2 linked regions of the Homo sapiens genome follow. The protein of the gene in region 2 purifies or fractionates together with the protein of the main gene of each other region. This does not show direct contact. Each region holds a gene or a part of one and is shown on either strand. Other genes may lie near its edges. The genes, in order: SNX8 and AKT3.

Region 1 (16,348 bases), on a different chromosome or scaffold from region 2:
ATTCCCGTCCCACCGCGCGTGCCCCTGCAGAAGCTGAAAGGTCACCTACCTTAGCTCCTTCCCGAATATGAGAAGATCTGCCGCATTGTCGATGGCCCGCGATGCGATCCGCTCGGCCCTGTCGCGAAGCTTGTGAAAGCTATTGTAGATGTTCCGGATCAGCTCCCGGCTGATGGCAAACTGAGCCTGGATGTCAGCTGGGAGGAAGTCCTGACATCATGATGGGGGGAGAGACACTGTGTTAGTCGCTGGGGAGCACCTGTCAGACGGCAGCAGCCGGTCCCCCAGAAGCTGAGCCACGGGAGACACAGCAGGTCCATGAGCCACCCCGGGAGCCCCACTCCTCCAGGCCTGCAGGGATCACTCTGTGTGTCCAAAAAAGAAACAAAAACCATCATCACCTGCATGCCACAAACACAAAGACAAATGATCCCATGGGATGAGGACCACAGAGTCCACTGAAATCTCATCACACTGGAGGACCTATCCAAAAACACTCAAATAAGGCCAGGGGCAGTCACTCACACCTGTAATCCCAGCACTTTGGAGGCTGAGGCAGGTGGATCACCTCAGGTCAGGAGTTCAAGACCAGCCTGACCAATATGGTGAAACCCCATCTCCACTAAAAATACAAAAATTAGCTGGGCATGGCGGCATGCACCTGTAATCCCAGCTACTCCAGAGGCTGAGACAGGAGAATTGCTTGAATCCGGGAGGCAGAGGTTGCAGTGAGCTGAGATCGCGCAACCACACTCCAGTTTGGGCGACAGAACGAGACTCTGTCTCAAAACAAACAAACCAACAAAACACTCGAATAATAATCTTGCCGGGCGCAGTGGCTCACGCCTGTAATCCCAGCACTTTGGGAGGCCGAGTAGGGCGAATCACGAGGTAAGGAGATCGAGACTATGGTGAAACCCCATCTCTACTAAAAATACAAAAAATTAGCCGAGCCTGGTGGTGGGCACCTAGTCCCAGCTACTTGGGAGGCTGAGGCAGGAGAATGGCATGAACCCCGGAGGCGGAGCTTGCAGTGAGCTGCGATCACACCACTGCACCCCAGCCTGGGCAACAGAGCGAGACTCCGTCTCAAAAACTAACAATACTAATCTTTAGCTGGATACAGTGACTCACACCTGTACCCCAGCGCTCTGGGAGACTGAGGCAAGAGGATTGCTAGAGCCTGGGAGTTTAAGAACAGCCTGGGCAACATAGTGAAACCCCATCTCTCCCAAAAAATCAAAAAATTAGCCAGGCGTGGTGGAGCGCCTGTGGTCCCAGGTGCTTACAGAGGGCTGAGGCAGGAGGATCACTTGAGCCCAGGAGTTCCATGCTGCAAGGAGCCATGATCACAACACTGCACTCCAGCCTGGGGACCCTGTCCCCAGAAAACAACAAAAATAAAAACAAACAATCTTCAAGTTAAACACAATGAACATAAATTCCTGAAAGACTCTCCACATGGGGGGAAGGCCTCTTCTATGCCGCGTTTATTCCCAAAGACTTTTTATAAGATTTGATACTAACTATCAGAGTTCAGAAAACAGAAAGCTCAGAGAGTAAAATGAAGGTAAAAGATTTGGCCAGGCATGGTGGCTCATGCCTTTAATCCCAGTACTTTGGGGGGCCATGCCAGGAGGATTGCTTGAGGCCAAGAGTTCAAGACCAGCCTGGGCAACATAGTGAGACTTCATCTATACCAAAAACAAACAAACAAATCAGCCAAGTACTGTGGTGCATGCCTGTGGTCCCAGCTATTCTGGGAGGCTGAAGTGGGAGAATTGCTTGAACTCAGGAGGTCGAGGCTGCAATGACCTACGATTGCACCACTGCACTATAGCCTAGAGGACAGAGCAAGACCTTGTCTCAAAAAATAAAATAAAATAGATTTTTAATTTTTGTATGAAGAAGCAGGTTTTTTTCTGGTTTTTTTGTTGTTGTTGTTGTCGTCTTTGACACAAAGTCTCACTCTGTTACCCAGGCTGGAGTGCAATGGCACGACCTGGGCTCACTGCAGCCTCTGCCTCCTGGGTTCAAGCAGTCCTCTTGCCTCAGCCTCCCAAATAGCTGGGATTACAGGTGCCTGCCACCAAGCCTGGCTAATTTTTTTTTTCTTTTTTTTGATGGTGTCTCTGTCGTCCAGGCTGGAGTGCAGTGGCGCAATCTTGGCTCACTCCAACCTCTTCCTCCTAGGTTCAAGCAATTCTCCTGCCTCAGCCTCCTGAGTAGCTGGAATTACAGGTGCACGCCACCGCACCCAGCTAATTTTTGTATTTTTAGTAGAGGCGGGGTTTCACCATGTTAGTCAGGCTAGTCTTGAACTCCTGACCTCGTGATCCACCCGCCTCGGCCTCCCAAAGTGCTAGGATTACAGGCGTAAGCCACCACGCCCGGCCGGTTTTTTGGGGTTTGTTTTGCTTTTTTTTGTTTTCCTTTTTTGTTTTGTATTTTTATTAGAGATGGGGTTTTGCTATGTTGGCCAGGCTGGTCTCAAACTCCTGACCTCAAGTGATCCGACAGCCTCAGCCTCCCAAAGTGCTGGGATTACAGGAAGGAGCCACCGCGCCAGCCTGAAGAAGAGGTTTAAAAAGAAAAAACCAAAAACAAAAAAACTACCAAGTAGCTACCTTAGTCTTTTTTGGAAAAAGACCAAACTTTAAACATTTAATAATAAACAAATGTAACAATGAATCCCCAGAAATCTGAAAAGGTGCTGACACAAGCATCCGTCTGTCTGAGTCACAGAAAAGGGCAGAGGGCACGAGGTGCCTGGAGGGCCTGAGGGCAGAGCTCAGCCGCAACCCGGCCCTGCTGCTTAGAGGCTCGGGGCCTTGGCAAATGACAGCCTCCCTGAGCCTGTTTCTCCATCCGTAAAACAGGCCTCCCAGCCCTGTGTCGGAGCAACTGAAACGAGGGTTAAATGAGGAAACCATGCGACAGATGTCAGCATAATCCCTGCCACGCAGAGGAGGCAAAATCACTTTGAAGGGTTAAAACTTGTTTCTCTGGTTAAAAAGGGATGTACTCTTCAAAGTTAGAAAAATACCTTGGCCCTCTCCCTCCCCCTCCCCCTCCCCCTCCCCCTCTCCCTCTCCCTCACCCCACAGTCTCCCTCTCATGCGGAGCCGAAGCTGGACTGTACTGCTGCCATCTCGGCTCACTGCAACCTCCCTGCCTGATTCTCCTGCCTCAGTCTGCCGAATGCCTGCGATTGCAGGCACGCGCCGCCACGCCTGACTGGTTTTGGTGGAGACGGGGTTTCGCTGTGTTGGCCGGGCCGGTCTCCAGCCCCTAACCGCGAGTGATCCGCCAACCTCGGCCTCCCGAGGTGCCGGGATTGCAGACGGAGTCTCGTTCACTCAGTGCTCAATGGTGCCCAGGCTGGAGTGCAGTGACGTGATCTCGGCTCACTACAACCTACACCTCCCAGCCGCCTGCCTTGGCCTCCCAAAGTGCCGAGACTGCAGCCTCTGCCCGGCCGCCACCCCGTCTGGGAAGTGAGGAGTGTCTCTGCCTGGCCGCCCATCGTCTGGGATGTGAGGAGCCCCTCTGCCTGGCTGCCCAGTCTGGAAAGTGAGGAGCGTCTCCGCCCGGCCGCCATCCCATCTAGGAAGTGAGGAGCGCCTCTTCCCAGCCGCCATCACATCTAGGAAGTGAGGAGCGTCTCTGCCCGGCCGCCCATAGTCTGAGATGTGGGGAGCGCCTCTGCCCCGCCGCCCCATCTGGGATGTGAGGAGCGCCTCTGCCCGGCCGAGACCCCGTCTGGGAGGTGAGGAGCGTCTCTGCCCGGCCAGCCACCCCGTCCGGGAGGGAGATGGGGGGGTCAGCCCCACCACCTGGCCAGCCGCCCCGTCCGGGAGGGAGGTGGGGGGGTCAGCCCCCCGCCTGGCCAGCCGCCCCATCCGGGAGGGAGGTGGGGGGCGTCAGCCCTCCGCCCGGCCAGCCGCCCCATCTGGGATGTGAGGAGCGCCTCTGCCCGGCGAGACCCCGTCTGGGAGGTGAGGAGCGTCTCTGCCCGGCCGCCCCGTCTGAGAAGTGAGGAGACCCTCTGCCTGGCAACCACCCCGTCTGAGAAGTGAGGAGCCCCTCCGCCCGGCAGCTGCCCTGTCTGAGAAGTGAGGAGCCTCTCCGCCCGGCAGCCACCCCATCTGGGAAGTGAGGAGCGTCTCCGCCCGGCAGCCACCCCATCCGGGAGGGAGGTGGGGGGGGTCAGCCCCCCGCCCGGCCAGCCGCCCCATCCGGGAGGGAGGTGGGGGGTCAGCCCCCCCGCCCGGCCAGCCGTGCCATCCGGGAGGGAGGTGGGGGGGTCAGCCCCCCGCCTGGCCAGCCGCCCTGTCCGGGAGGGAGGTGGGGGGGTCAGCCCTCCGCCCAGCCAGCCGCCCCGTCTGGGAGGTGAGGGGCGCCTCTGCCCGGCCGCCCCTACTGGGAAGTGAGGAGCCCCTCTGCCCAGCCAGCCGCCCCGTCCGGGAGGGAGGTGGGGGGGGTCAGCCCCCCAGCCCGGCCAGCCGCCCCGTCCGGGAGGTGAGGGGCGCCTCTGCCCGGCCGCCCCTACTGGGAAGTGAGGAGGCCCTCTGCCCGGCCAGCCGCCCCGTCCGGGAGGGAGGTGGGGGGGTCAGCCCCCCGCCCGGCCAGCCGCCCCGTCCGGGAGGGAGGTGGGGGGGGGTCAGCCCCCCTGCCTGGCCAGCCGCCCCGTCCGGGAGGTGAGGGGCGCCTCTGCCCGGCCACCCCTACTGGGAAGTGAGGAGCCCCTCTGCCCGGCCACCACCCCGTCTGGGAGGTGTGCCCAACAGCTCATTGAGAACGGGCCAGGATGACAATGGCGGCTTTGTGGAATAGAAAGGCGGGAAAGGTGGGGAAAAGATTGAGAAATCGGATGGTTGCCGTGTCTGTGTAGAAAGAAGTAGACATGGGAGACTTTTCATTTTGTTCTGTACTAAGAAAAATTCCTCTGCCTTGGGATCCTGTTGATCTGTGACCTTACCCCCAACCCTGTGCTGTGTCCACTCAGGGTTAAATGGATTAAGGGCGGTGCAGGATGTGCTTTGTTAAACAGATGCTTGAAGGCAGCATGCTCGTTAAGAGTCATCACCACTCCCTAATCTCAAGTAATCAGGGACACAAACACTGCGGAAGGCCGCAGGGTCCTCTGCCTAGGAAAACCAGAGACCTTTGTTCACTTGTTTATCTGCTGACCTTCCCTCCACTATTGTCCCATGACCCTGCCAAATCCCCCTCTGCGAGAAACACCCAAGAATGATCAATAAAAAAATAAATTAAAAAAAAAAAAAAAGAAAAAAAAAAGAAAAATACCTTGGCCCTGGTAGCCAGCTTACAGTTCAGGAATTCGTCCCCGACGCACTGTGCTGACTCCTTTAACTTGTTCTGCACATCCTGCAAAAGGAAAACACACAGCTTCACCCTCTTCTACTAGCAGCAAGAAAGCTGCTGTGGGGTATGGGTCACTGTGGAGCGGGAGGTCGTCTTTCCTCAGGAGAAACACATTTCCATATGTTGGCTTTGACATTAGTATTCTGCAATCTCTTGACTCTCCCTTAGATGTTTTTCTCACCAAACAGGACAGCCTGGCTTCACAGCAGGAGCACCACAAACCTGCAGCCTCTCTCCAGAGGCACAGCCACTCCATCCGCAGACGGGGGGCAGCTCTCCAGAGAAACAGCCACTCCATCCACAGACCAGGGGCGGCTCTGCAGAGAAACGGCCCCTCCATCCACAGACCCGGGGCGGCGTCAGCCCCAGAGATACCTGAGACCCTGGTAGCTTCCAAAAACGCAATAGAACAGGGCAAAAGTGTCTTCCTTCCTGGGAATGCATCCATGGCGCCAGGGACACCAGAGCCCAGGGAGCTGCTGGGCAGAGGGACAGGCCCAGCCCCTGGCACCGGAGCCCTCTCATCTGAAAGAGGCCTCCTGGGCAAAGCCGTGCCTTAAAGTCAGGAGCCACCCAGGAGATACAAGGGGAAACCCTAATATGCAGCTGTTTGCGTGTCCAGGAATTCTCAGGTTTCAGAGATGCCTTAAAGATCATCTGACTCAACTCTCATTTTACAAAAAAAAAAAAAAAAAAAAAAAAAAAGACCTGAGGCCCAGCATGGTGCGTGCCTGTAGTCCCAGCTACTCAGAGCCTGAGGCGGGAGGATCGCTGGAGCCCAGGGGTTCAGGGCCAGCCTGGGTAACATAGTGAGACCCCATCTCTAAAAACAGAAAGCAAGCAAGAAAACTGAGGCCGGGAAGTGACAGAGAATGATACCTGTGGGAAGGCCACAGGGAACGTCCTGCCCCCAGAACAGGGATATTGCCCACCTGTGACCCACTGCACCCCTGCCCACCGCCCCTCCCAGGTCCTGCCACATTCCTCTGCTGGCAATGCAGATCGCCTCCAAAGGAAGGTTTCCAACCCCAGGGCTCAAAAGATCCCACTGCCTGCTCCAGACATCCCCGGGGGCATCCCAGGGACATCTCAGGCACAGGGGGAAGGCCCCTCTGCCTCCGAGAGGAACGAAGACAAAAGGAACCAAGGCTTGTGTGAAGTCAGCCTGGGAGAGGGGGTGTCTTCCTGCAGCAGGGACAAGGACAGAGGCCGTCAGGTCCCCATTCAAGACGGGGTTTCCCTGAAATAGAGGAGAGCCTGGAAACCTCTATTCCAGTGGAGCCCCCGCCCCTCCCCGCACAGGGAGAGGGTCCTGCAGGCACAGGTGGAGGAGAAGCACAGGACCCGCCTTCCCTGGAGGGGCTGGCAGCTGCTTCCTCCTCCAGGAAACAGGAGCTGGGCTGCAGGGTTGTTTTTTGTTTTTTTGAGACAGGGTCTCACTCTGTCGCCCAGGCTGGAGTGCAGTGGCACAATCACAGCTCACTGCAAGCTCCACCTCCTGGGTTCAAGCGATTCTCATGCCTCAGCCTCCCAAGTGACTGGGATTACAGGTGTGCACCACCATGCCTGGCCTCAGTTTTGTTTTGGTAGAGACGAAGTCTCGCTATGTTGTCCAGGCTGGTCTCAAACGCCTGGGCTTAAGGGACCATCCAGCCTCGGCCTCTCCGAGCGCTGGGATTAGAGGCGTGGGCCACTGTACCTGCGAACTGTAGCTTCTTGACACACAATAAGGCTGTGCCGCAGCAGCTGGGAGGAGGGAAGCCCCACTCAGACCTCTGACGGAGTGCATGTACAACAAGTTAATTCCCGGATGCAGGTGTGGGCTGTGGCTCTGACAAGGAGGCTCAGCCTGTGTTCCAGTGGTCCTTAGTCAGACAGGGCCTTGTTTTAAGTCAACACTTCTTCCCATCTGGAGTCTCTGGCACCTCCCTAAACCCTCCAAACCATCCAGCCTAAATCCTCAAAGTGACCACAGAGATCCATGATCTCCACGCGGATTTACAAAATCCTGCAAAGTCAACACCAGGGACACCTCTGAAAATCACATTCAGACTGTTATCTGGAAAGGAAAGAAGTCTTGTCCATGTCATTCCTGCTGGGCGTCCAAACAAGGGACCAGGAGGATAAGAAACCACACCTGAGAGAGGAAAAGGCGGGTCCGGAGGCTCGGGGACTCCCCGGGGCCGGGACATGGGCAGGGCAGACACACTCACCGAGCCGCTGAAGGACAGGAAGAGCTTGAGGACCACATCCTCGGAGAACAGGGGGTGTCGCGCCACCAGGTTGACGAAGCGCTTCAGGGCTCTCCTCCTGGCCTCGATGAACTCCCTGTCAGCTGGAGGAGCACACGGGGTCACTGGACAGAGTCCAGGGCGCCGGCCCCCATCTTCTGCTCTGGGCGAGTTCTCAAAACTCTCCCTAGAGGTGGCAGAGGGCCCAGCGGCTAGCAGAGGGCACTGGCTGGGCCCCCAGTGCTGCTCAGACAATGGGTCTGAAAAGGCCGCCCAGAGCAATAACCTCACCCCCAGAGGCCCCCTCCAGCCACACACACTTGGGTCCAGGAGCTGCCAAGGAAAACCACAGATCTGCTTGTTTCCATCGGGAGTCCTGGGAACCACGTGAGTGGTCACTTTAATCACCTCCGTTAAAGACATCTTCCATAATCCCCTCCTGGCACTTCTCACTGCAAACAAATGGGTTTTGCTACGCTCTAACACTAACGCAACCCAGGTCTTCTTTTCTTTTTTTTTTTTTTGAGACAGAGTTTCGCTCCTGTTGCCCAGGCTGGAGTGCAGTGGCGCAATCTCGGCTCACTGCTACCTCCGCCTTCCAGGTTCAAGCGATTCTCCTGTCTCAGCCTCTGGAATTAGCTGGGATTACAGGGGCCCGCCAACATGCCTGGCTAATTTTTGTATTTTTAGTAGAGATGGGGTTTCACCATGTTGGTCACGCTGGTCTCCAACTCCTGACCTCAGGTGATCCACCTGCCTCGGCCTCCCAAAGTGCTGATATTACAGGCGTAAGCCACCGCGCCCGGCCGAGTTTTTCTATTCACTGTGCTTATAACTTACTCTGCAAAGGATGCAATTACTCATTGCTTTCATTCGGGTTAAATATTTTCACTCCAAGGGGAAAAAAAGTAAAAGCATATACTGATGCATTCAGGACATTTCAATCTGAACACAAACAAAAATGGTATTTAAATACTTTTTTTGAGACGGAGTTTCACTCTTGTCGCCCAGGCTGGAGTGCAGTGGTGTCATCTCGGCTCACTGCAACCTCTAACTCCCAGGTTCAAGCGATTCTCCTGCCTCAGCCTCCCAAGTAGCTGGGATTACAGGCACCCGCCACCACACCTGGCTAATGTTTATACTTTTATTAGAGAGGAGGTTTCACCATGTTGGTCATGCTGGTCTCGAACTCCTGACCTCAGGTGATCCGCCCACCTCAGCCTCCCAAAGTGCTGGGATTACAGGCATGAGCCACCAGCGCCCAGCCTTTAAATACTATTTTTAATGTATTAAGAAATACAGCCAGGAGTGTGGCTCACACCTGTAATCCCAGCCTCTTGGGAGGCTGAGGAGGGCAGATCACTTGAGGCCAAGGAGTTCTACATCAGCCTGGCCAGCGTAGCGAAACCCTGTCTCTGAAAAATACCATAAAAGAGGCCAGGCGCAGTGGCTCACACCTGTAATCCCAGCACTTTGGGAGGCTGAGGCAGGTGGATCATGAGGTCAGGAGATTGAGACCATCCTAACACGGTGAAACCCCATCTCCACTAAAAATACAAAAAAAAATAATTAGCCAGGCGTGGTGGCGGGCGCCTGTAGTCCCAGCTACTTGGGAGACTCAGGCAGGAGAATGGCGTGAACCCGGCAGGCGGAGCTTGCAGTGAGCCGAGACCGCACCACTGCACTCCAGCCTGGGTGACACGGCGAGTCTTCGTCTCAAAAACAAAAACAAAAACAAAAAACACCATAAAAGAGGCCAGGTGCGGTGGCTCACACCTGTAATCCCAGCACTTTGGGAGGCTGAGGTGCGCGGATCACGAGGTCAGGAGATTGAGACCATCCTGGCTAACACGGTGAAACCCCGTCTCTACTAAAAATACAAAAAAATTAGCCAGGCGTGGTGGCGGGCGCCTGTAGTCCCAGCTACGCGGGAGGCTGAGGCAGGAGAATGGCGTGAACCCGGGAGGCGGAGCTTGCCATGAGCCGAGATTGCACCACTGCACTCCAGCCTGGGCGACAGAGCGAGACTCCATGTAAAAAAAAAAAAAAAACACCATAAAAGAAAGAAAACAAACAATACAGGTAGGTGGCTGGGGCTCCCTCCTGGCTCAGCACTGGCAGGCCTCTTCCGATGAGGCTGCACTTCCTTAAATGCGCAAGCGGCCCAGCGCGCGTGTGCAGTTTCCAGGCGCTGAACGCCAGCCAGCGCTCATCAACTCGGATGCCCAGGCCTGAGCCAGCATCACACATCCCTGTCGCGTCCTCTGCTCTCTGCTGCCCTGAGCGCCCGTGTGCCCTTCAGCGTGAGCTGAATGATCTGCTCTGTGGCCTTCACATGCGGCGGGGTGAAAATCACATCATCAGACCCTGGGCTGCTTGCTCAGTGACCGATGAGAGGCAGAAGCATTTATGCATCATCGTACGATTTCAGATGCGGGGAACTGGCGACTGTGTTAGCTCCCATGCTGCGTCCCCGTCCAGGACACGGTGACTGTGGAAGGGCTGGGAACGGCAGAAAGCCATGATCAGCTCTAAGCACTCATTTCCCCAGCATGTTTTATTCAGAATTTGAGGAACGGGCTGAGGGAGAGACCACCAGTGAGATCAGAGCTGGCAGCCGCCATCCCAAGCTCTGCAGCCCAGGGGGACACAGGCCTGGGGAGCAGCTCTGAGGTCGTCTGCGATCTCCCACCTGGCCCGAGGCCATCTTCAGGCAGAGAGGTGAAGGTGAGGCAGCCGTGTGCTGCTTTTTCTCTCCTGCAAGATGCAGCTGACATTTCCTACTTGCACAACTCAGTTCTCTTCCATGAGGCCACCGAGCGCTCCCATGGTGCCCATGGCTCAGGCTGCCATGGCTTTGCAGATGCAGGCAGGGCAATGCCAGCCAGGTGAGCACACAGTGCTCCTGGCAGCCCTCTCGGGAGCTCTCGGGAGCCCTGGCCACTGCACTCTGGAGAGGAGAACTAGGGTTCTCTTTCACACCTGCACAGCAAGGGCTTCCCCACCTGTCAGTCATGCAGCTGAAGGCTCTGGTGGGCCAAGGCTGCCGGGTGCCAGTCTCCCTGCCTGCACCAAGGCTGGGCTCAAGCCACAGCTCTGTCCCAGATGCCAAAAGGCTGGAGTTTCCCCCGCAGCCCTGCACCTGCCCCGGTCTACAGTGGGGTCCATCCCTGAGCCAGGACCACAGGGTCCAGGAGATGGGCTCGCTCCCTCCGCCCCCGGTGGGCAGCACGCCTGGCTTTACCTCCCAGCATTCTCTTGGGTGGCAGGGCAGGCACCATACGGTAGGGGAACTTGTGCAGGAGCATCTCCTGGAAGACCACGAAGTCATTGTACCGTCTGTATACCGAGGACTTGAAGCGCTGCAAGAGAAGGGTCGGTGCTTAGATCCGACGTTGGAAACTATGCTGTCGCGTCACTTCCCCTCAACAGAGCCCGGGAAAACGACAGCACCAAGTGCATCTTCTCTCACCAGGCCTTTACTAAATGGAGAAACCCTGTGACGGCTTCGTATATGGAAATACAACTTTTAAACTTTGTATAGCTCTTAGGCCGGGTGCGGTGGCTCCCGCCTGTAATCTCAGCATTCTGGGAGGTTGAGGCGGGTGAATCACCTGAGGTCAGGAGTTAAAGAGACCAGCCTGGCCAACATGGCAAAATCCCATCTCTACTAAAAATACAAAAATTAGCTGGGCATGGTGGTGGGCGGCTGTAGTCCCAGCTACTTTGGAGCCTGAGGCAGGAGAATCCCTTGAACCCTGGAGACAGAGGTTGCAGTGATCCAAGATCGTGCCACTGCACTCTAGCCTGGACGACAAAGCGAGACCTTGTCTTAAAAAAATTAAAAAAGGCCGGGCGCGGTGGCTCACGCCTGCATTCCCAGCACTTTGGGAGGCCGAGACAGGCGGATCATGAGGTCAGGAGATCGAGACCATCCTGGCCAACACGGTGAAACCTCGTCTCTACTAAAAACACAAAAAATTAGCCGGGCGTGGTGGTGGGCACCTGTAGTCCCAGCTACTCAGGAAGCTGAGGCAGGAGAATGGCGTGAACCCGGGAGGCAGAGCTTGCGGTGAGCTGAGATCACGCCACTGCACTCCAGCCTGGGCGGCAGAGCGAGACTCCATTTCAAAAAAAAAAAAAAAACTAAACAAATGGTATGAAGCATAGTGGCTTCCCACCTGGTCAGTGACTGGCCCGTTACACACACATCAGGGTGACCAAACTGCCCCCTTGACAAATGTTCCCTATGTGGCAATGAATTTACTTAAGGGACGGGCAGCTTAGTAAGACTGGACAAAAGGCCAGCCGCTGGCTCCCTGGCAGGCAACGGCACGTCTCACACGCTCAGAGTTGCCTCACCCCCAGGCTGCCAGGCCCCAGAAGGAAGGGGTGGCTCGCTCTGCTCCCCCGTGGCATCCCACCAGCTGGTCCACATCCCCGACTGCGGCCCAGAGGGCCGGGAACCACGGCAAAGCCAGACAGCAAGGCGGCTCTGACACGGTCCTCCAAGGGAGTCCTCCCCTCTGACCCGCTTTGTCCTTTGGTAGCAGTACTGACAACCATTCGGACCGTGTGGCCACAGGCTCTGGAACACAGTGAAGCACAGCAGAGCAGACGGCAGGGAGGGGAGACCGGCTCGCTTGTCCTTAAGGCCAGGTGCAGTGGCTCATGCCTGTGAGCCTAGCACTTTGGCGGGCCAAAGTGAGAGGACTGCTTGAGCCCAGGAGTTCGAGACCAGCTGAGACAACATAGCAAGTCTCCATTTGTACTTTAAAAAAAAAAAAAAAAAAAAGACTGGGCATGGTGGCTCACGCCTGTAATCCCAGCACTTTGGGAAACCAAGGCAGGAGGACCACTTGAGCCCAGGAGCTCAAGACCAGCCTGGACAATATAGTGAGATCCCATCTCTACAAATAATTTAAAAAACTGCCTGGTGTGGTGGCATCCGCCTGTGGTTCCAGCTACTCAGGAGACTGAGGTGGGAGGGTTGCTTGAGCCTGGGAGGTTGAGGCTGTAGTGAGCTATGATCGTGCCACTGCACTCCAGCCTGGTTGACAGAGCAATACCCTGTCTCTTTAAAAACAAGCAAACAAAAAGACACAACTTTTACCCAGGACCATCTGCTCATGACGCTTTTCAAACAAGCCCCTGGCAGTGCCGTCCGGCCGGGGCTGGGCCAGGGCCGCCCTCTCCCACACAGGAGTGGGCCCTGCTCTGTCTGTGCGAATCCCACAAGCCCTGCTGACTCCACACCTCCCAAGGACAGTGTTAGCTCATCAATTACTCAATGCCCAGGATGAACAATGAAAACTCCCATCAGAATCTGTCGTAATGGAACTGAGACAACGAAGCAAGGGACAGAGAGAGCCACGGTGTTGCTCCAGACGGGCATCAGGCACTCGGTGTCTGTGTCTCACCTGCCCAATATCGGGATGCCCAGCAACAGGAGGGCCGTGTTATTAAAGGGGATTAGAGTGACACATATTGATCCTGCCATGCAAATTTCATTCACTGTTTGGGGTCCGGAGTCGATGGGGCTGACATTCTAATCCTCGGGGGTTTCCCACTATTACAAAGCGAGGCTGGTGTGGATCCCGCTTTGTGCTCTGTGGACCGTCCGCGGGAGATTCCTAAGAAACAGGCCTCCAGGCCGGGCGCGGTGGCTCACGCCAGTAATCCCAGCACTTTGGGAGGCCGAGGCGGGTGGATCATAAGGTCAGGAGATCAAGACCACCCTGGCTAACATGGTGAAACCCTGTCTCTACTAAAAAAAAAAATACAAAAAAATTTGCCAGGCGTGGTGGCGGGCACCTGTCATCCCAGCTACTTGGGAGGCTGAGGCAGGAGAATCGCTTGAACCCGGGAGGCAGAGTTTGCAGTGAGCCGAGATCATGCCACTGCACTCCAGCCTGGGCGACAGAGCAAGACTCCACATCGGGGAAAAAAAAAAAAGAAACAGGACTCCAGAGCACAGTGGTGGGGAGGACAAACTGGACCAGGGGTGACCAGGTGGGGACGTGGCTGGGCCAGAGTGAGGTGCGGGGAGCAGAGGTGTGGAAAAGTCACCTCCGCAGCCTGACTCTGCTGCGAGTTCTGGATCTTGCCTGTAAGCCAGCCACACAGACTCACCCTTCAGCCTTCTCCTGTCACACCACTCCTGCCCTGAGATGTTGAGACGTGACCCTTTCTTCCCCCTCCTGCCCCGACACACACACAATTTGCCAGTTACCTGGCTGGAAACCTCATACTCCACATGCTTCAGGAAGAGGCCCTTCTTCTCCGGAATGAGCTCCACCTGCACGGTGTCCCTGGCCAGCAGCTCCTGCAGGGTGTGGGACAGCAGCAGCGGGTTCCCCTGCGGCATCTGCATTCGACTGGGGGCTGGGACCTGCTGCACGATGGCCTGGGGCTCGATGGCCTGGGGTGTCGGCAGATCTGCAGGGGAGATGGTGAATGACCAGTGAGAATAGCTGCTCAAAAGCTGGAGCCTTGGCTGGGCACAGTGGCGCAGCCCTGTAATCCCAGCACTTTGGGAGGCCCAGGAGGGAGTATCACTTGAGCCCTGGAGTTCAAGACCAGCCTAGGTAATATGGTGAGACCCCATCTGTACAAAAAATAAAATAAATTGAAAAGTGCAGCCTCCCTCTGCTGTGTGCTAGCTCAGCACATGGACTCTGGCCACGTCATGCAACAGGTCCCATCGTCAGCCAGCCACACTCACTCACTCACACTACGGAGTCGACGCCGGACTCACTCACACTACGGAGTCGAAGCCGGACTCACACTACGGAGTCGACGCCGGACTCACTCACACTACGGAGTCGACGCCGGACTCACTCACACTACGGAGTCGAAGCCGGACTCACTCACACTACGGAGTCGAAGCCGGACTCACTCACACTACGGAGTCGACGCCGGACTCACTCACACTACGGAGTCGACGCCGGACTCACACTACGGAGTCGACGCCGGACTCACTCACACTACGGAGTCGACGCCGGACTCACTCACACTACGGAGTCGAAGCCGGACTCACTCACACTACGGAGTCGACGCCGGACTCACTCACACTACGGAGTCGACGCCGGACTCACTCACACTACGGAGTCGACGCCGGACTCACACTACGGAGTCGACGCCGGACTCACTCACACTACGGAGTCGAAGCCGGACTCACTCACACTACGGAGTCGACGCCGGACTCACTCACACTACGGAGTCGAAGCCGGACTCACTCACACTACGGAGTCGACGCCGGACTCACTCACACTACGGAGTCGAAGCCGGACTCACTCACACTACGGAGTCGACGCCGGACTCACTCACACTACGGAGTCGACGCCGGACTCACTCACACTACGGAGTCGACGCCGGACTCACTCACACTACGGAGTCGAAGCCGGACTCACTCACACTACGGAGTCGAAGCCGGACTCACTCACACTACGGAGTCGACGCTGGACTCACTCACACTACGGAGTCGACGCTGGACTCACTCACACTACACCCACTCATGCTACGGAGTCAACGCTGGACCCACTCACTCATGCTACAGAGTCGACGCTGCGGGCACGTCCTTTTGTTCAAAAAAATCATGGTGGTCAGGCACCATGGCTCACGCCTGTAATCCTGGGACTTGGGGAGACCGAGGCAAGAGGATCGCTTGAGCTCAGGAGTTCAAGACCACCCTGGGCAAGATGGCAAAACCCCATCGCTACAAAAAATACAAAATTAGCCATGCGTGGTGGCTCACTGGCTAATTTTGCAGTCCCAGCTACTCGGGAGGTGAGAGGATCACCTGAGTCCGGGAAGGCGGAGGCTGCAGTGAGCCATGATTGCACCACTGCATTCTAGCCTAGGCAACAGAGTGAGACCCTGTCTCAAAAAAAAAGAAAAAAAAAAAAAAAAAACTCTTCCCTGGAAGGCTTCCACCTGCTCACGAATCAGCAAGTACACCCACATTTCTGTGACTACATCAAATCAGTCTTAACCTTGGGGAAGGAAAACAAAGTGAAATATGTACAAGTTTTGTGTGAAAAAGAATCTTCCTTTTCTCTAGAGCCAAGAGAACAGGCTCAAACCAAATAAACTAGCCATACGATCTTCTAAATGCCCCAGTGTGTTCACAGTGAACACATTACTTTCATATGCCAAAAAGTCATCTGGACAGACAGGAGGGAGGGGAGAGAAGAAGGGAGGAAAGAAAGAGAAAAAACTCCAGGCCTGCTTATAGCTAGGACTCCCAACCACATGCACGGAAGAATTAAGCCAGAAAACTCCAGCTGCCTTACAGACAAGAAGTCACCGTGCACCCTGCACAAAGCAGCAAAAGCAAATCAGAGATCCTACGCCCAGCTTGCAAAGAAAAAACCAAAACAAGGAATAATGTTTAAAAAGTCAGTTTGGTTTTTAATACAAAGTGAGTTCTAAATAGAAAAAAAAGTGTTTCTCATTTTTTTTGTTTTTTACATGTTAGCGCACACCTGTAATCCCAGCTACTCAGGAGGTTGAGGCAGGAAAATTATCACTTAAACTCAGGAAGCGGAGGTTGTGGTGAGCCCAGATCACGCCACTGCACTCCAGCCTGGGCAACAGAGACTCTGTCTCAAAAAAAAAAAAAAGTTTAAAATAAGTGTTCTCTATTAAGCATGTATTAATTTTTATGATTTTCCTGATTATTAAGATAAGATAATCTTCCAAGAAAGAATGTAAACTCAGTAATGATT
Region 2 (16,348 bases):
AACTATAAATTTTTAAATTGCTTTAAAATAAGACACATAAATAACAAGCCAATAGGAGAGATAAAATAGGATACTGAAAAGATACTAAATCCTAACAAAGGCAAAAAAATAGGGAAAAGATACAAAGAACACATGACACAAACAGAAAACTCAATCATATCAATAATTACATTAAATATGACTGGCCTAAAAACTCCCATTTAAAAGGTAAAGATTGTCAAATTAGATTTTTTAAAAAAGACACGACCCAAACATATGCTGTCAACGAGAGAAACAGTTTAAATACAAAACAAAGACTAAATATAATAGGACAGTTGAAAAGATACAAGATGCAAACACTAATCATAAAAAATCAGGAGTTACTATATTAATATCACACAAACTGAATTCCAAGATAAAGAGTGTCACTTGAGAAAAAGGTGAACATTTCATAAGGATAAAAGAAGCAATACATCAAGAAGATATAACAACAAAAAAGCCTCTAATAATAGAGCTTCAAAATATATAAAATTAAAAAGGTAGGACTAAAGAGAGAAACAGATAAATTCACAATCATAGCTGGAGACTATAACACTGAGTCACAGAACTAGAGGAAAAAAAAAAAACGAGTCAGTGAAGACATAGAAGACTATGACCCATTACCAATCATCTTGACTAGATATTTATAACACTATACCCCCAAAAAATAAAATACAGACAGACCAAATGATAAGACCACATAATGGATCATTTAAAAAATCATTAAAAAGTTGGCTGGGTGCAGTGGCTCAGGCCTGTAATCCCAGCACTTTGGAAGGCCAAGGCGGGTGGATCACCTGAGGTCAGGAATTCAAGACCAGCCTGACCAAAATGGAGAAACCCTGTCTCTACTAAAAGTAGAAAATTAGCCAGGCATGGTGGCACATGACTGTAAATCCCAGCTACTCAGGAGGCTGAGGCAGGAGAATCAACTTGAATCCAGGAGGCGGAGGTTGCAGTGAGCTGAGACTGCGCCACTGCACTCCAGCTTGGTGACAGAGCGAGACTCCATCTCAAAAAAAAAAAAAAAAAAGATTTCATAAAATGAATAAACTCCTAGCAAGATTATCAAAGGAAAAAAGAGAGCAAGTATATAATTTACCAATATCAGGATTTAATAAGGAGATATCGCTAAGATCTTACAGACATTCAAAAGATAAGGGAGCCTGTAATCCCAGCACTCGGGGAGGCCAAGGTGGGAGGATCACTTGTGCCCAGGACGTCAAGGTCAGCCTGGGCAATGGAGCAAATCTTGGCTCTACTAAAAAAATAAAAATAAGGATAAGGGAATATTAAAAACTTTGCACCCAGTAACTTAGACGAACATCTTGGATGAAAAGGAAATCCTTAAAAAATACAATTTACCAAAAATGACACAAGAGGAAATAGAAAATATGGATAGCCTTGTATCTAAAGAAATCTCATTTATCATCAAAAATCTTCCCACAAAGAAAGCTCCAACCCACATGGCTTCACTGATACATTTTGTCAAACACTGAAGAAAAAATACAATCCACCTTATGAGAAACAAGTGCTTCCCAACCTATTTTATGAATCCAGCATAACCACTGTATCAAAACTGAAAAGAAATTTACAGATCAATACTCTTGTAAATGCAAAAAACCCTTAGCAAAATATCAGTAAGTCCAAATTGGTAATATATTTTTTTAAATACACCATGACCAAATGGAATTTATTCCAGCAATGAAAGTAATTCACCATATTAAGAGAATAAAAGGAAAAAATCAAATGACCATTTCAATAGAAGCAGTAAAATCTTTAGAAAAAACTGACCACCACTCATGATAAAAACTCTCCGAACTAGGAATAGTAGGGAATTTTTTCAACCTGATAAAGGGCAGCAACAGAAAAGGAACAGCTAATGTGATACTTAAGTGGTAAAATAAATGCTTTCCCAATAAGATGAGCAATAAAGCAAAATATCCACTCTTACCACTTTTATTCAACAATGTACTGGAGGTCCTATCCAGTGAAATATGATCAGAAAAAGAAATCAGAGGCATAAAGATTGGAAAGGAAAAAGCAGAACTGTGGATGTTCGCAGATAACTTGACCATCTATGTAGAAAATCTTTAAACTAACATTAATAAGTGAATTTCATGAGACTTCAACTTACAAAATCAATACATAAAACTTGATTGTTGATTGAGAAGGAGCAAGTGTGTGTGTAACAGCAACTTTACAATTCTATAAATAACTTCAAAATGTATATGAAAGCTTATTTGATGGTTTGCTCCATGTGGTTCTATTGGTTGAAACTTTCAAAAATAATACATTGAAACTCTAAGAAAAGCTAATTTCACAGTATTGTAAATACATTAGTTAAATCTCAGAGTTTCAATACCATTAGAAAATAAATTTAATTTTCTTATGTTTACTCTCCATGTATAACCTCAACAGTCAAAGTGAGCTTCTCTAATGTACCATGTGGTTTACACAGTCACTACCACAGCTCTTTACTCTCTATGGAAAAAGCTTGCTGCTGGGTAGTAAACAGGAAATCATACTGTCATTTTCTTTCTCCTAATCATTTTATAACTTATTTCTAAAGTCATTTTGTGAATAAAAAATGAACAAAAAAAAACACATGCATGCACAAAATAAAGGAGAAGAAAAGACCCCTGGACTTAGATAAACACTCAAAAATGTAAATTGTTTTCTGTAACAACTTGTTAAATTTGACTAGATAACAAGAATCACATCTTACAGCATAACCAAGTTCACAATCTTTATGTTGCTAAAGTATATTTTGCTCAGCAGAATTAAGCTATCTTGTGAGACAACTCATAGACACAAAATCTTTATCCTGGCATTACCAAATACCGACACTGTAGTTCATCTAAATAAACCATTTCATGGAATATAAGAAAAATATTATTCAAAGGACAAAGTCAGTACAAAGAAAACTAAGGGAAAAAGTTATTTGAAAGCCAAAACTGGTTACACATAGAGAATACAACATGAAAGTTCAGTTTGTTAGATACTAATACAAAAAGTAGAATAAAGTAACACGAGCATGGAACATTTTCATCAAAATGCTTTTAATGATAAAAATCACCTCTTAGATTTATGACAATCTCAAAACAGTAACATTATGAATTGACTAGTTATACATTATATTTTAACTTATTATCAAGGAACTAGCTTTCCACATTTATAAAAGACTACTTAGGTTTTTATGAAATTTTATTAAGCAAATGAAAGTTAATAAATTATAATAAGCCCTTAATTAATACTATTGCAATTTATTTAATTCTATAATTTAGACCTTTTAAACTGGCTAAATTTCCTACTTTATTAATACACTAAGTACCTTCATAGCAAATATTACCACTAGCTATAAGGGAAAAAATTAAGAGAAGTGCTGAAATCCAATTTAGAGATTTAGAGTCACCTAGAACATACCTACAGGCTCGTCTTTGAGTAAGATCATTTAGTAAGTATTTAATATATACAGAGATGCCTCCTATGCTGATGTGCAACCAAGTTGTAAGGAGCTGTCCTGGATCCATCAAGGAGGAAAACGCAGACAATACTTTACTTGATGTTTGCTCCGTGATGTTTCTTTTATTGCCATTTCTAACACCAACAATACTATGGTAATGTGTTATCTCAATTAATACTTATCATTTTCAACTGTCCAGAAAAGTGTAAAAAATAGGATATCACTATTAATATATCACTAATAACCAAGGTTAGGAAAGCATTTATCCTACGTAATAATGAATATTTATCTTTCAGCCCTTTTTTTATTTTCCAAGAAGATATTTACTGAAAAGCAACTTACTCACATTAAAAGTACAAATCAGATTATATCTGGAGATAACAACAATTGATGCATATAGTCTTACGAAAAAAGACTAATATTCAAAGTAATAACTATATTATAACTTTATTATATCAATTTTTTGTTGTTGTTGTTGATGAGACGGAGAACATGACTCCATCTCAAAAAAAAAAAAAAAACAGAAAATACAGGAAAAGGTCCGGGTGCGGTGGCTCACGCCTGTAATCCCAGCACTTTGGGAGGCCAAGGCAGGCAGATCACGAAGTCAGGAGATCGACACCAACCTGGCTAACACGGTGAAATCTCGTCTCTACTGAAAATACAAAAAATTAGCCTGGCATGGTGGCATCCCAGCTACTCGGGAGGCTGAGGCAGGGGAATCACTTGAACACGGGAGGCGGAGGTTGCAGTGAGCCGAGATCATGCCACTGCATTCCAGCCTGGGTGACAGAACGAGACTCCGTCTCAAAAAATAAAATAAAATAAAATAAAAATAAAGAAAATCCAGGAAAAATAGCCACAGTCCAAACTAGAAACCAAATTAAAGTATGGCAGCTCTGGAGTACAAAGAGAGCGTAAGAAATCCATTTGTTCTCCAATGAGAACACACGGACACAAGGAGGGGAACATCACACACCAGGGCCTGCTGGGGGTGGGGGGCAAGGTAAGGGAGAGCATGAGGACCTAATGCATGGGGGGCTTAAAACCTAGGTGACAGGTTGACAGGTGCAGCAAACCACCATGGCACATGTATACCTATGTAACAAACCTGCACGTTCTGCACATGTATCCCAGAACTTAAAGTAAAATAAAATAAATCCATTTGCTCTCTAAGAATCTCATCATACCACTTTGTTTAGTCATATTATTTATATAATGTAATATTTTAACTGCTTTTCAGAATCAGCAAGTATAACTATTATAAACCTTGACATATAAAATAAATGTTACAGTTGAAAAACTGGAAAGGGAATGTGAGGAATTCAAGGGAAAGATGAGGAGAAAAGCTAATTTTTTTTTTTTACAACTTATAAAGTGGCAAGTTTAGAGACAATGTCTGAACACTCTAAAGTTAACTGTTAAACAGCTATAAGTTTAATCATAAAGGCAACCAAAAAATAAAAGGAAGAAGGTAGGATCAGTATTAAAAGTTAAATCCTTCTATTTTTCACAATGGGGAGATATTAGGTTACTGAAGGTTAAAGTTTAGTATATTATATAAAAAACTGGCATAATGATGAGACAATTAAAAATAGGAAAAAAAGTTCTAAAATGATTATCTCTGACAAAGGAGGTAGAAAAGATAGGGAGATTTTTATTTTTCATTTTATACCTTTGTGTGTTATTCAAATTTTTATGTTTATGCAACTATTCATCTCAAAATAAGCACATACACATTATTAGAAACACATACACATACACATCTCAAAATAAACACATACACATTATTAGAAAAATGATGGCAAATTCTTATTCATTTTTTTTTCTATAGTCCATGGACTAAATACTTTCTATTATGGTATTTCAAAGATATAATTAATTAAACAGACTAAAGAATCATCCTAAACCTTTGATAAATATGTGGAGATAGCAACAGCTTACATTGTGTTAGAACTGTCAAAATAAATCCACAACCATCATCTCATTTAACCCTCAAAACCATCTTGTGAAAGCAGATTTTAGAGATTAGTAAAGTAAAACTCAAAAAGGTTCAAGTGATTTGCCATCCCCCTCCAAAAAAAGTAGAATAATATAAATACGTTTAAAAAGTAAATCAAAAAAGCCTTTATAAAGCACTGAAATCTGAAAATGCTTTCGTAATTTATAACAGGAGAATGACATTGAAAGAAATTACACTTGACAATACAAATGGTCAGGCACATCGGAAAACAGCTGGGCAGTTTGTTAAACATATACTTCTTATAAAGTTAAACACACACTTACCATATGACCCAGCAATATCATTCCTAAGTTATTACCCAAGACAAATGAAAACACATTACACAAAGACATGCACTCTAATGTCCAGACTCTTTATTCGTACTAACCAAAAGCTAGAAGCAGCCCAAATGTCCAACAAGTGATTAACAGATAAACTGTGATATATCCAGACCATGAACTACTACTCAACCATAAAAAAAAAGCTAATGATATACAAGACATGGATGAATATTAACAGTATTATGCTATGTAAAAGAAATCAGCCATAAAAAAACTATGTACTGCATGATTCCATTTATATGAAATTCTAGAAAAGCAAAATTATAGTAACAGCAGATAAAGTGGTTGCCAGGGTTAAGGGATGAGGACTGGGCTGCAAGGGAGAACAAAGGAACCTCTCGGGTTAATGAAAATAACCACTATATCGTTTTCAGAGTGTTTGTTACACTACTGTGTATCTCTGGCAAAACTCATCAAATTATGACTTTACATTGCTTAATTTTATTATGTAAGTTACGACTTAATAAGGCTCATTTAAAAAATAATCCATAATCACATTTAACTATGACAACAGCTTTTCAGGATAGGTATTTACTACAGACCTTCAAAAAATATTAAAATCAATATTAGGAGGGAACTTGTAACCATAAAGTAGATATACAGGAACTAAAAGGTTCTGAGAATGGAACAGTCCTCATCCTACTCGACGTGGCCATGTGGGTAAACAGTAGTTGCCTAGCAACTAATCTAAACTCTAAATTTCTAATAAATATATTGACCACATAAGCAGGTGATCTCACAGATGATAAACCGCTTTACATCGAAGGGTTCTTCCTTTAATAATAAAAAATAATAATGTGCTTAAGTTATTTATCTAAAGTAGGAGTGAACAAGGTGTATTAAACCTAGATGATGAAAAATAAAAATACGAAATTAAACATAAACATACACACACAAAAAATCCTTGTCCTCATTTGGCCTTTTACGTCAGGACTTTACTTACCAAATTTATGGGATTAATCCATGAGTTTGCGGGTGAACCCTTTCCCCTTTTCTACTTTAAGCCATTCCCCTACAACCATTCAAACTGGCTTAATTCTCTTATTTATATATTTACATGTGATTAAATGCATATAGGATCGTACTTTTACATATATTAAATGATTCTAAAGATATCTCTCCAGATTACAGAACCTGTAGACACCACAGAAAAATACAACACTTTCTGTAACACGCTACACACAACATACCAGAAAGTCAAACCTAACTTAACTAGATTATAAATGCTCAAAATCAAGAATTACAAAAAAATCCCTTAATAACAAGCAAATTCCTAACACACGTTAAATATATCATTTCTCTCTTACTAGACATAGCATGACACAGTTTAACAGTATCAGAAAAAAGATCAACTTCTAAGACACCACTCACTGCTAGCACTCTTACCAACCGTATTATTTTTGGTTTGCGGAGCACTTACCCCTCTTCTGAACCCAACCTTCTTTCACAATGGTAACATCGCTCATGATGACTCCCCTCTGAGCCCCCAACTTGGAGAAATGGTACTTTGTGATATCAGCTTTAGGGTTTGGATTCTCTGCTGCTGCTGCCCTTCCCACTCTCTAGTGATGACTCAGCCTGGAAGGAAGTATTGAAGAAAGAATTTTTTTTCCATTCTTGCAACTCACAGAGCAATAACAAACAACTAATTCTTTGTAAATGTCTTCAACTGGCCTGACCTCACATAAAAGTCTGGCTCTTCAAACTGGGGAACTTATTTATTAAATAGTTCTATAATGAAAGCACTTCCCTAGTCTTGTGACCAATTTCAAATGATAGTGAAACTTTTAACCTAAGAGGTTGCAACAAAAAAGTCTTAAGAAAACCAGTCACGCCTACCCAAATAATAGAGAAAATTTGTTTGGTGATGTGTATTTGAGGTGAAGAGGGAAGAGAATGAAAGTTAATTGCCCTAAATCCCTGTAATTTCAGAAGCAATTGTAAATTTTTTGTTTTTTTTTTTTTTGAAACGGAATCTCACTCTGTCGCCAGGCTGGAGTACAGTGGCGCGATCTCTGCTCACTGCAACCTCCACCTCCCAGGTTCAAGCGATTCTTCTGCCTCAGCCTCCCAAGCAGCTGGGACTACAGGTGTGCGCCACCACGCCCTGCTAATTTTTGTATTTTTAGTAGAAACGGGGTTTCACCATATTGGCCAGGCTGGTCTCAAACTCCTGACCTCATGATCCACCCGCCTCAGCCTCCCAAAGTGCTGGGATTACAGAAGTGAGCCACCACAACCAGTCGTGAATACTTTAAGTGATATAAAATACAACGTACCAAGAACTCATCATTTACGTATTCTTACTCTGCCTGTTCCAAGAAATATTTTAAGGAGATTAAAAAATAATTGATTTCATATTATGTACTTATTATAAAGTAAAGTGAAACAAAGGGAATATGAAAGTAGAAAAAAATATTTAGTACTCAAGATGTGCCAAGAACTGTTACGGGTACTTACATCTATTATTCTTATGTGATCTTTATAACCTTATGAGGATACTATTAATTCCATTTCACAGACAAGGAAACTGAGGCTCACACAGATAAACCAACTTGCTCAATTTCAACACACCTAGTAAATGTGGAGCCAAGATCTGAACCCAGGCTGTCTGACTCCAGAGCCTGCATTCCAAAACTATACTGCCTTAAGATAAAAAGAAGTCAGAGTAAAGGCATACATACTTGGGAAAGATACGTCACAAATTTGGCATGGAGCTCTTGGGAAGACAATGCAAATAACAAAACACAACAGGCTTTCCTATTTACAGTATCCAAAAAAAATTTTTTTTTGAGATGGGGTTTCCCCCCATCATCCAGGCTAGAGTAGAGTGGCACAATCATAGCTCACTGCAGCCTCCAATGGGGGTCAAGCAATCCTCCCACCTCAGCCTCCTGAGGAGCTGGACTACAGGCAGGCATCACCATGCCTAGCTAATTTTTAAAAAAAATTTTTGTGGAGATGGGGTCCCGCTATATTGTCCACGCTGCACAAATTTTTTTAAAAAGCAAAAAAAGTTCCTCAGAAGAAATACAACTTTTCCTGGGACAAACATCGAATTTATCCCATGGGTCTTCTTCATAAGATGTATGCGGGAAAGTCCTCAAAAACACCCTCCCATATACAGCAATGAGTTTTACAGGGTCATTGCTTATTGTCACTCTCAAACTAAAAAGGAAAATGCCAACATAAAATTAGTAAATCCATTTGCACAGAAGGGGACCAAAAAATGTGGTCCAGGTACACCAGTGTTATGTGGTCAAGAATCATATCATAAATTTTAGATAACTAGAAAAATGGATAGATGGACTACACAAACATACTCTCTCAACTTGGTTTGTGATAAATGATACATAGCAGTTAAGTTCAGTGTTAGACTCCCAACCTAGCGCTAAATTAGACTACAGGTCATTCTTCAATGCAAATTAAGTGTGGAGCTTAACCATTTAACAGTCAGGAATCAAGACTAAACATTCTCTAGACAGCCTGACTAAATAGCCTGACAAAAGCTATGTAGCTGAATGCAAGACCACCAGCCTCATGTATTATGAGGTCACAGGCAGAACCTATAGGTAAGGCTGAGACTCCTCAAAATCACCATGAGTCTGTTGCTGTAGAGTGTCAAAAAGGGATATTAGTTTGTAATCCCAGCACTTTGGGAGGCCAGGGCAGGAGGATCACTTATGTCCAGGAGTTCAAGGCCAGCCTGGGCAACATGGCAAAACCCATCTCCACAAAAAATACAAAAATTAGCTGGGAGTGGTGGCAGGCACCTGTAGTCCCAGCTACTCAGGAGGCTGAGGTGGGAGGATCACCTGAGCCCAGGAAGTCTAGGCTATGCTGAGTGGTGACCGTGCCTGGGTGCTACAGTGAGAACCTGTCTCAAAAAAAAAAAAAAAGAAAAGAAAAGAAAAAGAATTTGGTTGCACAGTTGGCCATATTTTTGTAATATGCATGTAAAATCATTTTAAAATCTGTCTTGGGAGCCTCATCATAAATTTTTAAAAATCCATACATACATATAAAATGCAATTGATATATGGTCCATTAAATACCAAGAATCAGCTTGACAGAATTTACCCCCAGATTAAACTGAGCTACCCAATAGGTATGGAATCCTCTAACAAGGTTCATCACAATGGTGTATTAGGAAGAGCACCAGAAAGACCAAGAAACTTGAGTCCCTGCCCCACCCAGAGTGATGCTGTATAAGGTCACTTTAATTATCTGTGCCTCAGTTTCCGGAGCCATAAAAATGAAAGTATAGCATTAGATGAACTCTGAATAGCTTTATAGCTCTTCCAGAGCTAATATTTATGATTCTGCAAGTTAAAATCTACGGAGTATCTACTTCATATATAGATGGCATCATAAGTGAAAGACATGATTATACATACATAGTTCATGTCCTCAAAAGTTTGATAATTGGAAGATAAAACATTCAAACAGCATTTCAACTAAGACAAAATTTGGGCTAAGCTCCATTATTGGAAAAATACTGTCCTCCTTCCCCTCCCATCCCCTAGTCCCCCAAATACAGTCAGAAGCTTTCTAATATAGATTCCAATATACATGTAAAATCCTCCTAAAATCTGTCTTGGGAATCTCCCTAATTATAAATTTTTTTAAATCCATCCATATATATATAGGAATTATCTAATATAGGGAAGAAAAATTATCATTTGCAATTCTAGTGTTTTCTTCTAGTAAATCTTTTTACTTTCCTCTCATAATATTTAGAAATGAGAAATACCTGTAGTTGGTGATAGAGTACTGAAAAGAAACAGAACTAAAAAACACATCAACAAGTCAAGAAGCATATATTAATTTTATCTACCCATTAGTATTCAAAGATTACTTGGCAGAGAAAATGAGTTTACATCTAATTTGATTAAAGACTATGATGCTATAATAAAATCTGTAAACATTTGAGTTATTTAATTTGGCATTTTAAACAAATGAAAGGTGATGTTAATGGGCCAGTCAATACACTTTTATTAACTTGATGCTATGGAAATTATTGTACCAAATTTTGCAAATTTAGAATTATCACTGTTAACTGTAATAATAGGTACAAACAAGAAAAACACTAGAAGTGTTGCAGAATTAGGAAAGTTTAAATAAAAGGTATTTTTAGAATGCCACAATAAGTTTTTCTTATGTGAAAATCACTTTCAAAAGTGTAGCAGGGGTTGTTTGAAAGATTAAATGAATACAGGTAAAGCACATAGAACAGTGCCTGGCACATGGCAACTGCTTACCAGGCATTGGTTAGCATTAACTCTAAACTGAATCTAATCCTATCCCATGTAAAAGATCAGGACAAAGTATTTGTTGTCGGAAGATTCAGGACTATCTTTCCAAAAGAAGGTATGCTGTGTGACCAGGATTTAAAATACTGATGCACATGCTGAAACCTGGAGTAACACAAATCTTCTAACAAAAATTAATTGTATTATTAATGCATATTAACTTAAAAATAAAAATGCCAGTCAGATCACAAGACTGATTTGCTCAAAATGAAAATGGTTTTTCAGTTCTTGCATTTTGTTGCTCAAATCTAAGATAGTTTTAAATTTTTCTTTTTAACACTTCAAAACTTAATCACACTATAAAGACAAGCTCCTATCAAATCATGCTAAGCATCCAACTAACAAGTTGTTAACAGTGATTGCCTTACCTTCCCAAGGACAAATTCTTGAACTAAAAGATATAATAACAAAAGAAAACATAGCTATCTTTTCACGAAAATACACAAAGTTTAAGTAAAGGCTAAACTTCTACAAAATCAATTTGTAAAACAGGTTCCTCATTTTAAAGAAACCCAGATAGCTGGAAATTTCCACTGAATTTTTATGAGAAAATTTCTGATGTTTACATCAAAAGCTACAGCTTAAAAAATAAGTCCTTACTTTCCACAAGTCTCTATGCTAAGTCCATTTGTTCCCTAGTAAGTTTAATCAACACGTTTATTTAGATTTGCAGTGATTCTGAAAACAGATTCCTTCTGACAGTGATTTTCTGAATGAAATGTAAATATTAAAAGTTTTTAATTAAACCAGCACACAGTTCACACTCCAGTATTTGTTAAATATAATCTTATTTAAAATATTTTACAGCTATGAAATTAATTTTTAAAAAGTCCAAAGCAAAACCTTAAAGTACTCTGACATATACAATTTAGAGTCGATGTCAAGATTATTAAGCCAAAAATTAATTTTAAATTGGAAAACAATTCACTCCAGTAATAATTATGGAAAGAAAACCAAATGAATACAAATAATAATTTCACAATTTTTGCAGGATTACTTTGGACTATTTTTAAAACGCTGTAAGAAAACATGCTGCAAAACCACAATGCAAATACACAACTGAAAACTAAAACCCTACATTCATCTAAATTTCAACAGTCTCATTCATGTAATATTTGTCCTCCCTCACTTTAAAACTGGAACCTCAAGCCAATCAAAGATATTGGGGTCAACCCTAGTAAGGAAAACAAAAAGATCTTCAAGTACCATCTCCCTGTAAACTTTCAAGTACTATCTCCTTGGTAAACTTTCCAAGTCAAGATAATGTACTGGCAAAAGGAAAACAATTACAGTCCGGATATATATCTTGCATATAATTGTGCATTAAGTCATAAACCTTGGAAAACTAGTAACTTAGTAATAAGTTGCTATTTTAATTATAAAATATTTTCATGTTTTAGACAACCACCCCCGGAATGTTTGTATTCGTTTATACATATTTTGCAAGTGATACTCAAGTTCTGAAGACTAATCTTCATTTCCTACACCATCTTTATTAGACTCTTCCACCTTCGTTTTCCTAAGTAAATACATAACCTAAACCAATGAGTTTCACTCATTTGTCAGCTTCAACCACTGACAAAACCCAGTGGTTGCCTAGTGATGTATAGTTCTACTAAAAGACATATATGACCATGCTTTACCAAATACGGAACACATGTCTAAACTGTTGAGACAACTGCCAATGTATTAACTACAAAAAGCCATTATTTTTTACTTTAGCCTCAACTAAAATCAAAGTGTGAACACTTTATTATGGCTAGAAATTACCCAATATAGATGCATAGGTTTCACTGTTGACTTTCTATTTGGAAACTTCATCAATTGCAAACTACCAGGCTTTCAACCAAAATGCCACATTGGTGAAATGAGTTGGTTTTATTTTCATAACAACATTATTTTGATGGAAGAAATGTGAGCATCCCAGCTTTGACTTGTGGGTAAGCATTTCCTCTGCTTTCAGAACATAAACAGTAAATACCGGTATTGGAAAAACCTGGCCCCAACGAGATTCTTTATCTCTAGGCTAACTGTAGATTCCCGGGAAATCCCAAACAAGGGATGGTGACCCCGCCTCGGCGTCAGGGTCAACACAGCAACCAGCTAGGCTTCAACTTTGGGCTCTGAAGGGCCCCACCGGCATCATGGCTGATGCGGACCGATGCGCCGGAGGAGGTGGACAAGGAAGAGGCTGGTCTGTTTACTTGCAGCCAGAGCTGCCGCCGCCGCCAGCAGCGACAGCATCACTGGATCAGCCAAACCCAGCATCTTCCGCACATTTCTATTCTTAGCACACAACTCCCAAGCGGATCAAAACCCCACTACTATTAAAAACACAGACAAGCACGTTACCCACCTCCCACACACACACCCCCCCCCCCACCCCACCAGTGCCGTCTTTTCCTGCGCGCCAGTGGCGGGGAAGGGTGGGGGAAGGAAGGAGACCCCGGGGACGCCTGTGCATCCTCGCCTTCACCCCACCCCACGCGCAGACAGCCTCAGCGCCAGGGCGCGCGGCAGACGGCTCCCTCCCCCCAACCCAAACACACTGACACCGGCGCTCCACGCGTTATATAACCTCGCCGCCGCCCCCGGTCCAGGCGGGCGCCCCCTCCCCACGCCGCGCGGCCCGGGCGGGGAGGGGCGAGGGGAAGGAGCGAGAGTTGCGCAGACAGCAGGCGCCGGGCCGGGGCAGCCCAGACACAGACGGTACCGCTAGGCCGGGAACACCCCTCCCCCGGCCCGCTGCGCACCGCCGCCCCCCAGCTTTCCCCGGAAAGCGGGGGGTGTCGGTGTCAACCGCGCTGGGCATCCCCCGGCCTCCACACCCACACCCGAAGCCTCCGGTGACCCAGCCCCCGCCCACGCCCCCGGCGCGGTGACAACCCAGAAGCCCCCGCCTCACCCCACCCCGCCGCCATCCCCCGCCTGAGGGAGGCAGGGAGGGCGGACCGGGGCCCGGGGCCCGGAGGGAGTGGAGGCCAGGCGGGGAGGGGGCTAGAGTTGGGGGCGGTGGCTGTTACCTGCAACGGCGGCGGCGGCGGTGGCGGCCCCGCAGCTGCTCGGGCGGCGGCGGAGGATGGAGCCGGGGGGGGGCGGGGGGAGGAGAGGGGGCGACTCGGGGGTCCCCCCTCCCTCCTCCTCCCCTCCTGTCCTCCCCCCACCCCACAGAGCCTCTGGCCTCCTGGAGCCCGGTGCGGCCGGCGGGAGGGCAAGCGAAGGGCTGCAGGGGAGGGAGGGAGGGAGCCGGCCGGGCCGGGCCGCGGAGCTGGAGCGGGAGGCGGCGGCGGCGGCGGCGGCGGCGGGAGGGGGAGGGAGGAGAGAGGGCGGCGGCGGGGAGAGGAGGAGGCGGAGACTCTACATGGGAATCGGATATCGGCTACAAATTCATCACCAGAAAACACCGCTCGGGCGGGGGCCGGGTCACGCCGGCGGGGCGGCGGCTCTGGGCCCCGGGGCGCGCCCGGCGCGGGGAGGGGTTCTGCGGCCTCCTCCCGGGCTGCGCCTCGCTGAGGGGACCCCCCGCCGCCTCCCCGCCCCCTCCTTCCTCCCGCTCGGGGCCGCCGCCGATCGGTTCTCGCCGTCGCCGCGGGGCTTGTTGTTGACTTTGAGGAAAACTCCTGACGTCAGGGGCTGGCTCTCGGCGACTGGCGGGAGCGGCTTCCCCGCGTCCCCGGCCCTGCCCGCCGCCTCTGCTCCCCTCCCTGCCCGGCCCTCGTCCTCAGGCTTCCCCGCGCCCCCAAACCAGCGGTGCCCCGCGCCCCCTCTCCTCTCGCGAGAACATCCCCCTAGCCAGCCAGAGCCGGGAGCGGGGGCAGTCGCTCCCGGGCGGGAAGTTCTGGGTTTCCCCCTCGCCCGCGTGGCCCTTGGCGGGCACCCGAGGCCCGGGAGCGGAGGCTCCTCGCCCAGCCGCTTCCTCGGCGCATCCGCCCACCCGCCCTGGCCGCGGACGCGCGCGCCGCCAGGCCCCGGGCGTCTCCTCCAGTCCGCCGCGGCCCCTTGGGGAGATGGGCCCGGCGCGAGGGCTCGCACCTGGAAGCCCACGAAGTGGGCGGTGCCCAATGAGGTAGGGACCGGAGAGCGCGGAGCAGTCCAGAAGCCGACCCCACCCCCTGCACCTCGGGGAAGAGGGAACCCGGGTCAGCCCGTAGCAAGAATCATTCCTGACTATCCCAGGAGACCACGGCAGACCAAAAACACCTCTCTGAACAGCCTTCCGCACCGCTCGCTGCAAGCATTCGTCCACACACGGTACACAGATTGCGGGCGGATCGTAATTCACTCTTGAAATCACACCCTTTTTAGGGATATTCGTTTTCAATGACTTTGGGAAAGCCACGAGGTACTACATTTACTACGAAGAGACCGTTTCTTTATTTTGAAGTCAGTGACTCCTGAGACTGCATTGGGGACAACTTTTTTGCACAATGACCATATTTTACCATGCAGCGCACTTCAGAAAATTATAAAAGTTTACAAGTTTTATCGCTTCTGGAAACACCTGGGCAGCATCCCTATTATCCCGCCACGTGGCTCTAGCCTTGTTGATGTACCTGTTACTTTCTCCCACTGCAACATTTTTGTTAATGTCTGTGGCTTCTTTCTGCAGAAGAGTTCCTCCTCCTGACATGCACTTCATTCTCTGCTTTTCTATGTCTTGACAACTCTCTTATGGTAGTCATTTTCTTATACTGTAGCCCCCTGGTATTTATGTACTGTGTGGTATTAATATTTATACTTCCAGGTTCACATCTTTTATGAACTGTGCATCTGTTGGGATTGTGGACAGGAGTAGGAAACCAAATAAAAGGGTTTTTTAAAAAAGTCAGTTTTCTCCGTTTGTAAGGGAAACTTGTCTCCCTGACCACCCTGGAGCAAAATTTGCCATTTTAAGATAACACAGTCCGTCTGAGAGAAAGTCCTGCACCATGCCTTTCCCCTTTTCCCATATTTCCCAGCATGCTATGAGCTGATGAATAAACAGACTTTGTCCTATTTTCGTTGTATCTATAAAATATACATAATGTATTCCCATAATTATCAGACCTCTCACAGTCACTATTGGTAAAATTATTGGGTTACAGGTTTCTTGCTGTAAAACACAAAAATAGGTCATATTTTTATTCCATAGTACCCCAACTTGCTTTTTATTTTTAAGAAAATAGTCCCTTATGACACCAGCACTAAAAAGAGTGTCTGAAACTTTAAA

Evidence for each region.
Region 1: the proteins of AKT3 (region 2) and SNX8 purify together in Homo sapiens (affinity purification with mass spectrometry; 2 studies listed by BioGRID and IntAct, with this or other methods). This does not show direct contact.

What each region holds. Positions count from the first base shown.
Region 1 is NC_000007.14:2,264,249-2,280,596, forward strand, and holds part of SNX8 (sorting nexin-8), read right to left. Parts: intron 14,058-16,348; coding exon 13,852-14,057; intron 10,982-13,851; coding exon 10,864-10,981; intron 7,724-10,863; coding exon 7,602-7,723; intron 5,392-7,601; coding exon 5,311-5,391; intron 211-5,310; coding exon 50-210; intron 1-49. UniProt on the Homo sapiens protein: May be involved in several stages of intracellular trafficking. May play a role in intracellular protein transport from early endosomes to the trans-Golgi network.
Region 2 is NC_000001.11:243,835,878-243,852,225, forward strand, and holds the start of AKT3 (RAC-gamma serine/threonine-protein kinase), read right to left. Parts: upstream 14,367-16,348; 5' UTR 14,163-14,366; intron 7,708-14,162; exon of another isoform or gene 7,667-7,707; intron 7,406-7,666; 5' UTR 7,294-7,405; coding exon 7,248-7,293; intron 1-7,247. UniProt on the Homo sapiens protein: AKT3 is one of 3 closely related serine/threonine-protein kinases (AKT1, AKT2 and AKT3) called the AKT kinase, and which regulate many processes including metabolism, proliferation, cell survival, growth and angiogenesis.